Regions from separate parts of the Homo sapiens genome. Here region 1 is linked to region 2. Evidence: fine-mapped expression QTL. A gene starts in region 2. The other region holds a variant in brackets. All regions are shown on one strand. Distances are between the middles of the regions. Region 1 has its middle 34 kb from the start of ZNF195. Region 2 holds the start of ZNF195 (zinc finger protein 195).

Region 1 (8,821 bases), 35 kb before region 2:
ACACCCTCTGTCCTGCCCGCCGAAGGGTTTGGAGTTTCCTGCTCTTGTCTGTCTCTGGGTTGCCCCATGGGCCCCTGTTGGAAGGTTTAGCTCTTGCCATACCTTTGGAACTAGTTCCTCTGGTGAATTCTCTGCATTGATCCTGCTGGAATGAGCTCTTTCCTGACTGATGCAGGATGGATTTTATTTTTTACTTATTTTTTTGAGACAGAGTCTCACTGTGTTGCCCAGGCTGGATTACCGTGGCACAGTCTCGGCTCCCTGAAACCTCTGCCTCCTGGGTTCAAGCAACTCTCGTGCCTAGCCTCCTAAGAAGCTGGGACTACAGGCACATGCCACCATGCCTGGCTAATTTTTGTATTTTTGGTAGAGACAGAGTTTCACCATGTTGGCCAGGCTGATCTCGAACTCCTGACCTCAGGTGATCCACCTGCCTCGGCCTCCCAATGTGCTGGGATTACAGGCATGAGCCACCGCACCTGGCCTAGGATGGATTTTAAAGATGGGCCCGAAAGTGCAGGGTTTGACATAAGGATGTCGAGAGGCCATTCCTCAGTAGGCAGTAGCAGACCTATCTTAGTGAAAGGGCCACACTTTTAGCAAGTAAACAATCCCCTGCTTCTCCAATACCTGCTTTCTCCCTAATCCTCCCCAAAAGGGTGCATCTGTGGTCACCAGCAGGTCTGCCCTGTGCCACCAGGAGAGGGCAGCAGTCACCCAGTGTATATTGTTGCTGCCCTGTGAATCTTAAGATGGGGCCAGCCATGGAGAAGCAGCCTGCTGACAGCCACAGCCTGCAGCATGGGCCGCCCTCACAGTTCTGCCTGGGCTCACTTAAAAGCACCTTTTGTTTTCCTCCTCTCTGTCATGGTCATGTGGCAGCTCTCACGGAATCCTTGTCTCCTGCCCTAGACTACACCTAACCCTACCCTCTCAACACCTCTCGTTGAAGGCCCTCCCATCCAGGTTTCCCTACCAAGTGAATTTTTTTTTTAGAGACAAGGTCTCTTGCCCAGGCTGTCCTCGAACTCCTGGGCTCAAGCAGTCCTCCCATGTCAGCCTCTAGAGTAGCTGGGACTATTCGGCACACACCACCATGCCCAATGAAGTGAATATTTTACATGCCAGCTGGCTGGTATTACACCATTCCATCCCAAATCTCCCCTCCAAACTTGGTGAAAATCATCTGACCATTTTTACAGATTAGAACGAAAGCAAACAAGCTCTCACTCTGTCTGACCCCAGCACGAGGCTGTCCACACAGAGCTTTTGGACAAGCTGTACGAGGACCTGGCAGAGACCCTGATGGCCAAGGAGTCCACCCAGGGCCACCCGAGCTATTTGCTGGTATGAGAAGGGCACCCTCCTCCCCCTCACAGCCCAGATACCCTTCCTGCACAAAGTGAAAACGTGGGTGTGGGTTCAAATCCTGACTCACCCATTCTGCAGTCTTAGACATGAGGTCCGTCAACCTTCTTTAGCCTCAGTTTCCCTGTCTGTAAATCAAGCACTTCAACAACAACAGCATGTCTCATGGGGTTGTTGGGCATTTGTCCAATAGGTGACACACTCTACCTGCTTCACAAGGACCTGGTGTCCAGTCCTCAAAGAATACTTGACAGGTCCTGGTGTGGTGGTTCACACCTGTAATCCCAGCACTTTGGGAGGCTGAGGTGGGTGGATCCGAGGTCAGGAGTTCAAGAGCAGCCTGGCCAATATGGTGAAACCCTGTCTCTACTAAAAATACAAAAATCAGGCCGGGCGTGGTGGCTCATGCCTGTAATCCCAGCACTTTGGGAGGCTGAGGCAGGTGGATGACCTGAGGTCAGGAGTTTGAGACCAGCCTGGCCAACATGGTGAAACTCTGTCTTTACTAAAAATACAAAAATTAGCGGGTGTGGTAGTAGGTGCCTCTAATCCCAGCTACTCGGGAGGCTGAGGCAGGAGAATCTCTTGAACCCAGGAGGTGGAGGTTGTAGTGAGCCAAGATCACGCCATTGCACTCCTGCCTGGGCAACGAGAGGGAAACTCTGTCTCAAAAAAAAGTGGAAAAATTAGCCACACATGGTGGCACATGCCTGTAGTTGCACCTACTTGGGCAGCTGAGGCAGGAGAATTGCTTGAACCCAGGAGGCAGAGGTTGCAGTGAGCCAAGATTGTGCCACTGACTCCAGCCTGGGTGACAGAGCTCAAAAGAAAATAAGATAAAACATAGATACAGAAAACCACAAAGGAAAAACATAGCATATTGAATCATCACAAGGCAGCCACCCCTTCATAGCCACACCTGGCCCCTGGCCACCACTGACCTGTGCTCCATCACCAGAATTCCGTTGTCTCAGGAATGTTCGATGAATGGAATCCTGTGTGGCCTGAGATGAGTGTCTTTCATGCCACGTGACACCCTTGAGGCCCGTGCAAGCTGTTGGCATGTCAACAGTTAGCTGCTTCTCATTGCTGAGTGGCGATTGGTCCTGTCATGGTTTATTCAGCCATGTGGTGGATGGCTACTTGTCTTCTAAGCCACTTGCCTTCTGATTGCTGGACTGACTCTCTCGCCCTCTCTTGGTGCAGCCCTCGGGAGGCTCAGTCACACTCTCCGAGAGCACAGCCATCATCTCCCATGGCATCACAGGCCTGGTCACATGAGATGCTGCCCTCTACCTGGCAGAATGGGCCATCGAGAACCCGGCAGCCTTCTCTCATAGGTGACCTCGGGGCGCACGGCAGGACACCGAGGCAGGCTCACCCTGGTGCAGTTACAGACATGGTCCCCTTTCCTCCCGCCAGGACTGTCCTAGAGCTTGGCAGTGGCGCCAGCCTCACAGGCCTGGCCATCTGCAAGATGTGCCGCCTCCAGGCATACATCTTCAGCGACTGTCACAGCCAGGTCCTCGAGAAGCTCCGAGGGAATGTCCTTCTCAATGGCCTCTCATTAGAGGCAGACATCTCTGCCAACTTAGACAGCCCCAGGGTGACAGTGGCCCAGCTGGACTGGGACGTCGCGACGGTCCATCAGCTCTCTGCCATCCAGCCAGATGTTGTCATTGCAGCAGGCAATGCCCAGCCCCGGGCACTCTGTGCAGGCGGTGTCCTTGCAGCTCTACCCAGCTCTGGGCTCTGGGAAAAGGGAACAATGGACGCTGTCGGGCATGGACATGATGGGGCTTCCAGAAGAGTTACTCTGGGCCTCCAGGGTGACATCAAAGGACAGGGGTGCCTCTTAAGGTGACCTTCCAGCCACAGCCCTCTTGTTGGAGACAGGCATACTCCCATTACAGTCATCACCACATGGCTCTGTCCCAGAGCCATGCCTCTGTCTTTCAGAGACCACAGGAGGAAAACAACCACTTCTGGGATGAGGACAGGGCCCTTGAGAGAAGGTGGTGTTTGGCTGGGCCACCGAAAACCCCTCGCCCCTGCCAGCACACTCGGTCTCCTCTCTGGTTGAACAGAGCTCTGCCTGTGGTCCTGGGTCCCAGCCCTGAAACCCACAGGTCCAGCGGTGGCCAGGGACACAGGCCCACCCCTGCAAGCCAGCAGACAAATCGGCAGACACCTGAAACACGAAGTTCATGGCAGGGTCAGGCTTTGTGTCATTCACAGCCCTCTAGATAGGCCGAGAACCAGAGCTCATTTTTTAAGGAACACCAGTGAGTCTGGAGATTTTTTTCTTTTGCTTCGGTCTTTTGCAGCTTTCTCTACTAAGGGTTCTCCTTTTTCACCCAAGCAATTGCCTTTCCATCTAATGGCCCAAATGGTCAAATGGCATCTACTAGTCTCATATGACTGCTGCCTCTCTGGCCTCGCCCTGCTGCTGAGGTCAGCATGACCTGGAACTGTCCGCTGGTCCCTTTCAGTAACCTGAAGCTTTCACCGTAGACGTGCTGTATTGCCCAGAATCCATCGTGTCGCTGGTCGCGGTCCTGCGGAGGCTGGCTGCCTACCGGGAGCACCAGCGGGCTCCTCAAGTCTACGTGGCCCTTATCGTCCGCAACCCAGAGACGTGCCAGCTGTTCACCACCGAGCTATGTGAGCCCACACGCCCACCCGGGCCTGCATGGTCCCCGAGCTGTCCCTGCGGGACTCCAGTGGAAGTGAAAGAACTGGGGGCCGAGGAAAAGCTAGGA[T/A]GCCCCACACTCCCACACCATGCGGGGAACTAGGGCAGAGGCCGGTGAGCAGGGTGGGCCTGGGGCGTGGGAGCTTGCGGCAGGAGGAGGGCAGCTCAGCACAGGGAGGGAGGATCTGAGCCCAGCAGCCCTACTGTGTGCTTCAGAGCAGGGTTCCCTAAGCCCTTGGGCGTCGGTTTCCTCATCTATAAAATGGAGGTGGTGGGAGGGGCAGTCGGGGTCAGGGCTGGACACAGCTGTGGCCTGCAGGACGCTGGAGCACAGGCTGTACAGGCGGATCCACCACGCCACTGTCCTGAGCACCCAGTTGATGGAAGACGAGCAGGGTGACTATAGAGAAGGGGAATTGTCCCCGTAGTGGGCCAGCCACTGTCCTCAGACCTGACATTTGTCAGCCCCCAGCACCTGTGAGAGTGTGCTATCATTGTCCCATCTCACCGACAAAGACACTAGGACACACAGAGGCCAAGCAACCCCTGAGCTCCCACAGACTGCAGCTCGGCCACCTGGCTCTCGTGCCTCCACACTACACCCAAGCCCCCCATTGCCACCAGCCTTTGCCCCAGATCACCCTGAGCACAGCCCCTCCTGGCAGCCATGTGCACAGATGCACGCGCAGCAGCCTCTGCCTGCACACAGAGACGTGGGTCCAATGCCTGTCCACGTGGGGCAGCGCGTTAACTACAGAGCCAACAAACAAGCCAGCACACGAAGGCATACTGGGTTCCACGACAAAGTCCTGCACAACCTCGCACAGGAGGCTGGCCGGGCGCGGGGCTCAGGCCTGTCAACCCAGCACTTTAGGAGGCTAAGGCAGGGGGACTTCTTGACACCACGATTTCAAGACCAACCTGGGCAACATAGTGGGACCCCATCTCCACAAAACATTCAGAAACTAGCCGGGCATGGTTGCGCACACCTGTAGTCCCAGCTACTCGGGAGGCTGAGGTGGGAGGATAGCTTGAGCCCAGGAGGTGGAGGCTGCAGTGAGCCCTGATCTCACCACTGCACTCTAGCCTGGGCAACAGAGCAAGACCCTGTCTCAAAAAGGCAAAAAAAAAAAAAAAAAAAGGAAGTCTTTCTTCAGATACTTATGTGAAAAAATAACTGCAATATCTTTGAAGTGAAAAAAACAGTGCCAAGCAGAACACATAGTATAAGCCCCCACCCACCTTTTTTTTTTTTTTTTTTTTTTTTTTTTTTGGAGACAGTCTGGCTTTGTATTGCCCAGGCTGGAGTGCAGTGGTGCCACGGCCCACTGCAACCTCCCACCTCCCAGGTTCAAGCTATCCTCCCATCTCAGCCTCCTGAGTAGCTGGGACTACAGGTGCGTGCTACCACACCTGGCTAATGTTTGTATTTTTTGTAGAGTCGAGGTGTCGCCATGTTGGCCAGGCTGGTCTTGAACTCCTGACCTCAAGCGATCTGCTGCCTCAGCCTCCCAAAGTGTTAGGATTACAGGCGTGAGCTACTGCGCCCAGCCCCATTTTTGTTTAAAAAATAATAATAATCACCCACACATGTTTATGAGTACCTATATTCCCAACTACTCAGGAGGCTGAGGCAGGAGGATGGCTTAAGCCCAGGAGTTTGTGGCCCCCTTGAGCAACATAGCAAGACTTCATCTCAAAAAAAAAGTATCACAATAATCATTTTCACATAAGTATACCTATTGGGGAAAACCTAGAATATATATGTAGCAGGCTCGTCCAATCTGTGGCCCAACACAAATCTGTAAACTTTCTTAAAACAGTACGAGGTTTTTTTGTGATTTTTTTTTCTTTTAGCTCATCAGCTATTGCGAGCATTAGTGTATTTTATGTGTGGCCCAAGGCGATTCTTCTTCTTCCAATGTGGTGCAGGGAGGCCAAAAGATTGGACATCCCTGATATACACATTAACAGGTGCCATCCTTGGATGGCAGGATTATAGAGACTTCTACACGTTCATGTCTGTACTACTTTATTTTTATAAATACACATTTTCCACTCGTAACAAAAAACTGTGATTGAAAATCATCCCGTGTCACAGTGTCTCACGCCTGTAATCCCAACACTGTAAGAGGCAGAGGATTTGGGAGGCTGAGGTGAGCGGATCACTTGAGGTCAAGAGTTCAAGACCAGCCTGGCCAACACGGTGAAACCCCATCTCTACTAAAAACACAAAAATTAGCCACGCGTGGCGGTGCACGCCTATAATCCCAGCTACTCGGGAGACTGAGGCAGGAGAATCACTTGAACCTGGGATGCATTGCAGTGAGCTGAGATTGCACCACTGCACTCCAGCCTTGGGAACAGAGTAAAACTCTGTCTAAAAAAAAAATAATAAAAGAGTCTGAGGCAGGAGCATCACTTGAGGCCATGCATTCAGGACCCCATCTCTACAAAATAAAAAAATTACTAGCATGGTGGCATGCACCTGTCATCCCAGCTACTCAGGAAGTGGGAGGATTGCTAGAGCCCAGGAGTCGAGGCTGTAGTGAGCAATGACTGTGCCACTGCACTCCAGCCTGAGTGACAGAACAAGATCGTATCTCAAAAAAAAAAAAAAAAAGAAAAGAATCATTCTGGCTAACGGCTCTTCAGACATCTGTGCTTATGAGAACACCAGCCCCTTCTAAGCTGTGTGTGTGTGTGTGTGTGTGTGTGTGTGTGTGTGTGTGTGATTTTGTTTTTTTTTTTTGAGATGGAGTCTCACTCTGTCACTCAGGCTCGAGTGCAGTGGCGCAATCTCTGCTCACTGCAACCTCTGCCTCCTGGGTTCAAGCAATTCTCCTGCCTCAGCCTCCCAAGTAGCTGGGATTACAGGCACCCGCCATTGTGCCTGCCTAATTTTTGTATTTTTGTAGAGATGGGGTTTCACCATGTTGGCCAGGCTGGTCTCGAACTCCTGATCTCAAGTGATCCACCCGCCTTGGCCGGCCTCCCAAAGTGTTGGGATTACAGGCGTGAACCACTGTGCCTGGCCGCTTTCTAAGCTTTGTGAAGAGTGAGTTGACTGAGCAGCCAGGTAAGTGTGGGTTCAGATCTCTGCGTCTGTCCCGCTGTGCCAAGTGCTGGGCAGACGCGGGCAGAGACTGGACAGCGGCACGGTGCCTGCTGCTAGCCATTTCTATGCAAAACCAGATTTCTGGTCCCATCCTGGAGGCCAATTCTAGGCACCTGGGTGGGCCTGAGAACCTGTGAACCAAGTAAACTGACTTGTACACGCCCCCACCCCGCCAGGCCTGTCCTAGCAGCCCCACACAATACGCTCATGTCCTGTCCCCAAACACTGCCATCTTCAAACACATGTCCTCTGTTTCCAGGCCGGGCCGGGATCAGATGGGAAGTGGAACCTCGTCATGACCAGAAACTGTTTCCCTACGAAGAGCACTTGGAGATGGCAATGCTGAACCTCACACTGTAGGACTCACACACGACTCCAACGGGATTGTGAGAATCAAGTCACTCTCGTGGGAAGAGTTTTTATATGGGAAAGCGGATAAAACTTTCATTGGACTGGAATGTTTGGAGAATGTTAATTTCCAAATCAGGAACCACAAACTGCCCTCTGATAAGACATCGGCTATCTAAGCTTGTGGGTGCTCCCTTTCTGCCAGCAGTTCTGGTTCTTAAGAAAATCGCCATCAATCAGACATGAAAACTCTGGCTCCAAAAATAGCATTTTCTTTGTGCAAATAAAAACGTGTGTATCAAGTATGATGTTCCCCCCAACGTGGACACACTCGGTTCCTCACAAAGCCAAGCCCGCTGCAGCTGCCACATCTGTGGACACACTCGGTTCCTCACAAAGCCAAGCCCGCTGCAGCTGCCACATCGGTGGACACACTCGGTTCCTCACAAAGCCAAGCCCGCTGCAGCTGCCACATCCCTGGACACACTCGGTTCCTCACAAAGCCAAGCCCACTGCAGCTGCCACATCCCTGGACACACTCGGTTCCTCACAAAGCCAAGCCCGCTGCAGCTGCCACATCGGTGGACACACTCGGTTCTTCACAAAGCCAAGCCCGCTGCAGCTGCCACATCGGTGGACACACTCGATTCCTCACAAAGCCAAGCCCACTGCAGCTGCCACATCCCTGGACACACTCGGTTCTTCACAAAGCCAAGCCCGCTGCAGCTGCCACATCCCTGGACACACTCGGTTCTTCACAAAGCCAAGCCCGCTGCAGCTGCCACATCCCTGGACACACTCGGTTCCTCACAAAGCCAAGCCCGCTGCAGCTGCCACATCCCTGGACACACTCGGTTCCTCACAAAGCCAAGCCCGCTGCAGCTGCCACATCGGTGGACACACTCGGTTCTTCACAAAGCCAAGCCCGCTGCAGCTGTCACATCGGTGGACACACTCGGTTCTTCACAAAGCCAAGCCCGCTGCAGCTGCCACATCGGTGGACACACTCGATTCCTCACAAAGCCAAGCCCACTGCAGCTGCCACATCCCTGGACACACTCGGTTCTTCACAAAGCCAAGCCCGCTGCAGCTGCCACATCCCTGGACACACTCGGTTCTTCACAAAGCCAAGCCCGCTGCAGCTGCCACATCCCTGGGCTTATGGTGCAGCAGGTGCTTTTTTCAAGACAGGAATCAAAATGTTAGGAACACGGCAGAAAGGTGACACCTGGAGACCAAACGCAGGATGAGGAGTACTGCAGAGGTCACAGGGAAGTCACAGAACAGTAATACGC
Region 2 (8,821 bases):
TTGGAGAGTCACATTTTCCCTTGGGAAGGAGGGTAAAGGTCAGAGGAGCCAGAGACCTGTGACCTGCTTGTGCCATGAGCCCTAACTATAAGGACCTGAACACTCTATATTAAAAGTCCAAAGCTTGGGGGCTCCACCGAGCTTCTCACCTCACGGCCTCTGCTAGGGAGGATGAATGCTTTGTCCTCCCAGAGCTTTGCGAGCTTGTAGCACACAGCCTCCCCAGCACAACATCTCTTGGAAACCTCAGACTTTGTCTTAAACATTCATGCAAATTTTGCATCTTATTTCCCATTATGTCAGCATGTTTTAGAAAAAACCCTCAACTTTCCTGAATATACAAGAGAATTTGACGTTGTAGAACATTGTGCCTTTTAAAAAAATTGTGTTATTTAAAAATTTTCCCCACCCCCCCTTCTGCCCCCCAAGACTGCCAAATCCTTTTTGAACAAATATTAGGAAATGCTTATTATGTGCCAGATATGATTCATGGTCTTGGGGATATAGCAGAAAACAAATACCTGGGTATGAAATAATCTGTACAACAAACCCCCATGATGTGAGTTTACCAATATAACAAATCTGCACCTGTGTCCCTGAACGTAAAAGTAAAAAAAAAAAAAAAAAAAGCAGTGGTTTGGGGTCTGGCCCACACTCTAATCCCCCGGAGACCTTTAAGCCACAATGTTGCCCAGGCCCCACTCCAGTGATTCTCATTTTACTGGTCGGTGGCAGCTTGGGTTTGGGAAATTCTAAATGCCATCCCCCCAGGTGATTTTACATGTAGCAGGGGTGAGAACAATTGATTCAGGGTAAAGAATGCATTCACTGTAGCTGGTTTCCATGCATACTGATGGGATTTGCCACATAGGAGCTTGAAAAATAGCTCTTCCTTATTAAAAATCAACGGACACCTCCAAGATGTACTTAGCTGTTCGGATAAATTGCTGCAGAAAAAAAGTCTTCTCAGCAGATGTATCTTTAAGTCACTTGATTTCAGAGTAAGAGGTTGTTTCAGTCACAGTACTTATAGTCAGTGTTGAAAATTATGAACAGCCTACAAATACCAAAAAGGAATGAAAGCATTTACAGACATATAGGATACATTCTGTTTTAAAATTGCTCCTCTGTTGTTGGGCTCTGATTTCCTAAAGTCATCTATCAGCCATTTCCCTCAAATTATTCCATGTCCTTCCAAGAAGCTTCTGCAATTTCTCGAGGTGATTGATTATTCCCAATGGTAAACAGCACCATATGGGTCCAAATCTAAAAGGAATTCTGCCTCTATTGCAGAAGAGTTACTCTCCAGAAACTTGCAGGCCTTGGAAAGCTGTATGAGCAGTGCAGTCTATGCAGGAGTAAGGGCTGCAGAGCCAGGCAGAGCTGATCCTGAGTACCAGCCCAGCTGCTTAGCAGCTGTGGGACTTTGGGCAAGGTTCTTGACTTGGAGCAGTAATATAAACCTCTTCTGCAAGAAAGGGTAGAATAATACTGATTGCAGAAACAGCAGCAATGCTTCATTACTCTCTGTATCTATGCTCTTTATTGTGTGCTCTTACAGCTCCTCCCATCAAGAGGCCGAATGTGTTTCCCAAACTTTGCATCTGGCTGGCACTATTTTCTCTGGCTATAGAAAACTGTTGTATTAGTTTGTTTTCACACTGCTGATAAAGACATTCCTGAACATGCGAACAAAAAGAGGTTTAATTGGACTTACAGTTCCACATGGCTGGGGAGGCCTCAGAATCATGACGGGAGGCAAAAGGCACTTCTTTCGTGGTGGCGGCAAGAGAAAAATGAGGAGAAAGCAAAAGTGGAAACCCCTGATAAACCCATCAGATCTCGTGAGACTTATTCACTAACATGAGAATAGCATGAGAAAGACCCGCCCACATGACTCAATTACCCCCTTCCCCGGTCCCTCCCACAACACACGGGAATTCTGGGAGATACAATTCAAGTTGAGATTTGGCTGGGGACACAGCCAGACCGTATCAACTGCGAATATGACAGCTTTTGTGCTAGTTTTGGGCCTAGGCTCAAAAGGTCTTAAATGCTTCTGTGTTTCTCAGAACCTTGCTATCTTTATGAGATCAAGCTATCAGAACCTTGCTATCTTTATGAGATTAGCCAGCTGGAGGATGACATACCATGGTGGGGAGAAGGAAGGTGCCACTGTTGATAGCCATCTCATCCCCAGAAGCAGAGCCACCTAGTCAACCAGCAGCTGGCCATACATACATGAAGCAGTCCAGTTGTGACAAGAATAGCTCAGTTGAGTTCAGCGTGAATGGCTGATGAACTCAATCATGAGCTATTAAGTTTTCGGTGATTTGTTATGCAATAGCTAACTAATACATGCACCCAGGGCAGATAGGGTGCCAGGATTCAATGAAAGGTTGATTCCTAGTTACCTGCAAGAAGAAAGCACTTTATAGGTACTAATTCTCCCCCCTTATTTAAAGTTGGATCTTTTGTAAGATAATGTTCCGTCATACAGAAATGCATGTACACATGTATATATGTGATTGGTGCTTTTACTCACACAGCCCCCCAACCACGGGAAGAAACAGACAATCACAGCTTGATCATTAGGGCTAAGGCCAAATAGCAAGATAAGTCTGCCTCTAGTCTATTTCCTCCATATCTAAATGTTGGAGGTCAAGGCTATGGACAGATCTGAAGATGTGTTCTCTCCTCTTAGGGCCCCATTATTGATGGGCAGCAGTCCTCTACCCGTGGATATTTTCTTTTGCTTTCCCCTATGCTCTCTAGGATCACCATCTCGTCCACCCTTCGACCGGAGGAGAGATGTTTGTAGCAAGAGGCTGTTCCCTCACCTCTGGCTGAAAAGGGACTTTCAGACCCTCCACTTCCTGACATAAGGGAGGTTAGACCTCAGAGCTGCACTTTAGTGTGGCAGCTATTGATCATGTGTGGCTATTGAATAACAGGAATACAGCTGGTCTGAACTGAAATGTGCTGAAAAGGTAAAATACAGAGTGAGCTTCAAAGATTTAGTACCCCAAAATATATACTTCCTTACCAATTGTATATTGACCATAGAGGAAAATGGTTACATACTGGGTTAAATTATTACAATCAACTTCACCTGTTTCTTAGTACATTTTAAAACGTGGCTACTAGAAAATTTAAGATTCACACATGGCTTACATTTTAATTCTTAGAGGCTTGAATCCTTTTTGAAATTTCAGGCTGTCTGTTCAAAGGACCAAAAGCCAGGAAGGCCATAAAATATAAAAATTCAAAATGATTGTCTTTATTTTCTTCTTTCCATTGGTGAATAACATATATTTATTATTTATAAATAAACATAACCGCAGTCACAAGATGAAATGTAAATATCCTCTAGGTGGGGCCGGACAGCGCAGGCAGGAAGCCCCGCTCCAAAAGATCGCGGCCAGCACCTGTCCTTGCTGTCTCATTCGGCCCATTGTCTGATTACAGCTCCTGTCACTCAGGGCCTGAGGGGGCGGGGCGTGATGCCCTATCCAATCAGAGGAGTAGGGGCGGGGACTGTCCAATCAGGCACATGTCTGGAGAGGAGAGGACGGCTTCCGGGATCTAGCGGGGCCTTTGTCCCGACAGAGCTCCACTTCCTGTCCCCGCGGCTCTGTGTCCCCTGCTAGCCGTAGGTCGTGTGACCCGCAGGCACCGGGAGATCCAGAAGTGAAACGCCAGGCTCTCTGGAGGCCAGGAGATGGTGAGTGTAGGGGCCAGGCCTCCTGAGAGACAGGGAGGGGCGGACTGGAACCCGCGGTACCGGCTCGGGAGGAACCGGGCTGCCCGGGTGGGTTCCGGGCTCCGCGGACCCGAGGCCCCTCCAGCTGCACCATGGCGGCCGGGCCCCGCGCGCCCCGGCGCATCCCTGCAGAGCGGCTTTGGCCCAAGCCCAGAGCCATGTCCCCCCGGCAGCTCTTCGCCCGCAGACCCTCGTCTCCCCGAGTCAGGAAGGGAGAATCCCGACTCCGTGGGTGGTTTGTGCATAAGAGGATGATCTGTAGCCCGTGGGGGCCCCAGTCCCTCCTTTCTCTCGAGGGAGTCCTTGCAAAAATGTGAAAGAGTTTTATTTGAGCAAAGAGCGATTCATGAATGGCAGAGGACCCAACCATGTTTTTTGGGTTTGGAGGTCCCACCAGCCGGCCTTGAAGGAAAGGCTTTTATCAGGTGCATGAGGAAGCAAACCACATTCATTCATTAGTTCGGTACAGTTACGTCATCTCCTGATTTCAGCTATCTAGGCTGAAATTTTCTGGTCCTGTAATCAGAAGTTAATTAGAGGTTTGTGGTTGACGAAGCCTGAATTTTGTTTCTGCAAGATAGTCATTTGCAAGAAACGCATCTGAGTTAGATTTTTTTTTTTAACCTAAGAACCCAGGGCACTAGAGCCACCTCAGTCGGATTGCCTGCTATTTAATTATTATTATTTTTGAGATGGAGTCTCGCTCTGTCCCCCAGGCTGGAGTGCAGTGGCGCGATCTCGGCTCACTGCAACCTCTGCCTCCCGGGTTCAATCAATTCTCCTGCCTCAGCCTCCCGAGTAGCTGAGATTACAGTCCTGCACCACCACGCCCGGCTAATTTTTGTATTTTTAGTAGAGACGGGGTTTCACCATGTTGGCCAGGCTGGTCTTGAACTCCTGACCTCATGTGATCCGCCTGCCTTGGCCTCCCAAAGTGCTGGGATTACAGTCGTGAGCCACTGCGCCCAGCCTGGACGGCACTTTTTAAGAGATTTGTTTTCTGTTTGTAATCATTCCACGTGACAGGAAAGCAGAGAATCATCCCCTGACGCTATTGTAAAAAGTCTTTGTGCCTCTCCTCCTTTTTATTTTCCCTAGGCACAGACACCTTACCAGAATGTCTTTGGTTTGAGGTTCCACTTTGGAAACTTGACAGGGTGATTTGCTCTCAGCCACCCTCTGGACTTTTTCCTCAGTTTCAGTATTGTCCAGGGATAACACAGGATGCCCACCATGGCCATGTCTGCTGGAGCATCTAGTGAATTTCAGGCCCTGGGTTATTTCTCAGAGGACAGCCTGAGGTATGAAGTGTGGCCTCTCCAGGGAGCAGCTGGATGCCCTGGGCTGAGAGAAATCTCCTGGTCTACTCTTCCTCTAAAGAGGTAACCACTTAGGACATTAAGATTGTCTTCACCCAACCCAACTTTCAATCCCTGGAGACACATGGCTGATCAGCCAATCACATGCCCCTGTCAGAGGGAAAAGACCGAAATCATTTCTGCCCTTTGGACTCTCAGATTTGTGAAGGGAGACAGAATGTTTCAAAGAGCAAGAAAAACTCCACCCCGTGAGATGGTGCAAAACCTGTAAAGCAAAATTCACCTGGGACACTCAGCGGGGCACAGTGCAGTGTATCATCGGGGGTGGCCGGTGAGCACTTCGGTGAACAGGATGGAGGTGGGAGAATCTCCCAAGGAATAGAATAGCCTGACTTGACACAAGTCATTAGCTGTGTCTGTGTTCCAGTCGGCACTGCCACTCTCTGTGTCTCCTTGAAATAATTTATTCACTTACTGCAATGTTGGATTTTTAATTGTAAATTTACATTTTATCAGTAGAGCTTGAAAGGTAAGAAAATACTTACAAAGGACATGAAATAGGTCAATTTCAGGAAAAAAGTTAAATATCTAGTCATACATACCTTTTTCTTCTCCAGAGTGATTAAGGGTAGAAAGTTACTTAGGTCTGTTCTTTTGTGGAAGATGATTTCCAACAGAATCCCAGGGCTTAGCTTTGGGAATGCTACCAGGGAACATAAAATGCTTCTTGGATGGCTGTGGAGAATGTTTACATTTTCTACAAAAAAATTATGGTAGATTACTTGGTAAATTGCATAGATTCATCAGAACATGAGCTCTTTTTGCAGGATGAATTTGTTGTCATGAGTATCTCTGTTTTATATCCTGTTCTCTAGATGTCTGAGCTTAATGCTAAGTTGTAGGAGATGGAACTTAGCACTTCTAAAAGTGTTCACATGTGATTGTTTACTATATGATTTGTTATGGAAATAGTTAAATGACAAGTTCATTGTCTGAAAGCAATAAATAATTTTGCTTTTTCTGTGGAGGTGAAAGTGTAAGTGCTTACAGTTTCCTTTTCTTCTGTAAACTGTTTCAGTGATTTTGTTGGATGTTTCCAACACTGGGTATTTTCTTATTTAAACCTAAGTGGATAACCCTGATTGGGAAGTTGAAGCCCAAGAACAGTCATTCCAAGCTAAGGCTAATACTGAGTCTGCAAAAGAAAGCAATCGAAGGCCTGGCTCAAGCTTGTCCAACCCACAGGCCTGGGCCACATGCTGGCCTGGGCTTTGAATGTGGTCCAACACAAATTCGTAAACTTTATTAAAACATTATGAGACTTTTTTGTGATTTTTTTTTTTTTTCAGTTATCAGCTATCGTTAGTGTTAGTGTATTTTATGTGTGGCCCAGGGAAGCCAAGATCGGACACCCCTGGCCTAGCTAGTGCTTCCCAAGGAGCCTCCCCTGCGGGTGCGCCAGACTGCTCACAGCAACCATGGAAGGAGCCTTTCTACAGAGAGAAGCTGCAGAGCCCGGGAGCACTGGGGACCCACAGGCAGATGCAGTTAGAGTTGGGATGGAAGGAAGCTGGGGAGGACTTCCTGGGTATGGAATCGTTATTATCCTGGGGCTGTTTCTAGACTTCGTCAAATAAAATAAATTTAGCTTTAGATAGGAAGTTATTGAACTCTAAAGGAGGATTGCAACAGGGAGAAGGTAGCAACTATCATGGATCTCATGGCCATAGAGGGCATCTGTGCAGGGTCACCAGGAACTCTCTCACCAGCACCTGGAGTCTTTTGGACATTCAGGAGTGCACTGTGCAGACGGGGCTCAGGCTGACAAAACGGTCTATCTGTGCTTCTGTTGTAGAATAAGAGAAATGAGTCACCCAGGGTTTGTTCCTCCCCTCAGAGAAGAAACCTCATTGGTATCCACATGGGAATTACTCCAGTTTTTCTGGTACTTCAGTAAAAAACAAAAATGAGATCTGGAGATTCAAACTGATAAACTAATTGATTCCATCCTGTGTAGCCATTAGGAAAACAGAGAAGGCAGCCATGGTCCCCGCAAGCCAGAAACTTTTCCATTTCCAGTAACTGGATAAATCATTGAATTCAGCGTCTTGGGGTCAGCATGAAGAAGGGAGTGGTCAAAGGGACTTCTGCTTCATTTGGGCCATTTTCCTGATGTGGTTGTTGTGAGTTCTGATGTCATATTGAAGGGATATTCAGACAGACAAGGTGGTGGTGGTATTATTTCTGTTGCTTTTGCCCGGCTAAAAATAAATATTTAGCTTCTACCATATCTGTCCTAGAAAATCCTAAAGGTTTCGGTTAAATTGCTTGTTATTTTATGTTATAAAATAGACAAGGAAGTGGCCAAAATAGATTAAAATTATACAAACCCTGGGATTTAAATTTTGGGGTGGGGGGCAGTTTTAGGAAAAACAGAATTGTAAATACTCTAGTAGCATAGAGAGCAGAATCCTGCGTAGGGCCCTCTCCCTGCCCAGACATGCCCAGACTCTCCTTCTCTGAGTCTCATCCAGGTCTGGCTTCACCCTGGACTCTCCTCCGACAGAGTTAACTACAGAATTAAATCAGAGTTTTGGGTTTAGCTACAGAGTTAAATCAGTTTGGAGTTTAACTACAGAGTTAAATCAGAGTTTGACTCCTGCTGCCTCTCCGGAACTGATACACAGAATTTTCGGAAACCCCAAAGCAGATAAATGGGATCAAAGGACTCTCTATTTTGGAGCCTTAATTTTTCTTTTTTACTAACACCAGCGCTGTTAGAGACATCGTATCCAGCAAGCTCTTTCTCAGTCCTGTGGGTCTAATAGTTGCTTCACAAGCCACAAGAAAGTGAAGATAAACACAACAATGGAAAGTGCCTTTGCACTACACTTCATCCCCTCTGTATCCCTTCCATTGGTCTATCTGGAGCTTTTATCACTACACTTTTAAAACGTTAATGATAGGAAAATAGAAGAGGAACCACAAAGCCTGGTCCCTTCATCTATATCTTGAGAGTTGCAGGACACTTGGTTCCATCACCCAGGGTGTGGTGAGGATTAACTCACATGACGTGAGGTGCCCAGCACAGTGCTGTCACATACATCCGAGCACCCCGTGCCTGCTTAATAAACACTGCATTCATACGTGTGTACACATTGTTTTCCAAATGCAGACAGACTCAGACATTGCTTCCTTCTCCAGCCCTGGAAAACTTTAAAGAGCCAGGAAATAATGTAATCTTTCAGAATAGAGATTGGCTGTCTCCATTTGCACCAGAAGAACTTATGTTGTGGTCAGAGGGTTGGGTGTAAGGGACTGTGCTGGGGCTGCTTTCTTTAGCTGAGTGTTAATGATCACAAGTCTTGGGGGAGCAGCATCACCATTAATGGCAGAACTGTTAAAAAATCCAACCCATGAACCCCTTTGAAATCTTCAGAATCACATGACTTAGAGTGGGGCCAAAATTACCAAAAGATTCATATGCACATTGAAGCTTGAGAAGCAAGGCTTAGCTAAATGGTTCTCAGCCTGGCTTCTAATTAAATCACATGGACAACTCAAAAAAAGGCCCTCACCTTTGCCCTCACAGATTCTGCCTATTGGTTTGGGTGGAAGCACCAGTGCTGTTTAAGTCACATGCATCATGGGATTCTAAGGTGTGGCCAGAATCAGTGATGGGGGGTTTCAGATGCATTTGTACGAGTTGAGCTCAGCCTTGGTTCCAAAGGGAGGTCAC

What was found. PIP is the estimated chance that this variant, and not a neighbour inherited with it, causes the effect.
Region 1: its variant is fine-mapped to the expression of ZNF195 in pancreas (GTEx, PIP 0.97).

The regions. Positions count from the first base shown.
Region 1 is chr11:3,409,066-3,417,886 of GRCh38, reverse strand. It overlaps the pseudogene TSSC2 and the pseudogene FAM86GP. Among named protein-coding and RNA genes, the nearest start is that of ZNF195, 34 kb to the right of the region's middle. RefSeq lists enhancers at 7,600-8,100, 8,101-8,601. The variant T/A (reference allele first, on the strand shown) is at 4,131.
Region 2 is chr11:3,373,941-3,382,761 of GRCh38, reverse strand. ZNF195 (zinc finger protein 195) reads left to right here and starts at 3,616. Exons shown (of 6, transcript NM_001130520.3): 1 at 3,616-3,724. The coding sequence starts at 3,722. It also overlaps the pseudogene TSSC2. RefSeq lists enhancers at 3,369-3,663, 3,352-3,915 and a silencer at 3,841-3,910.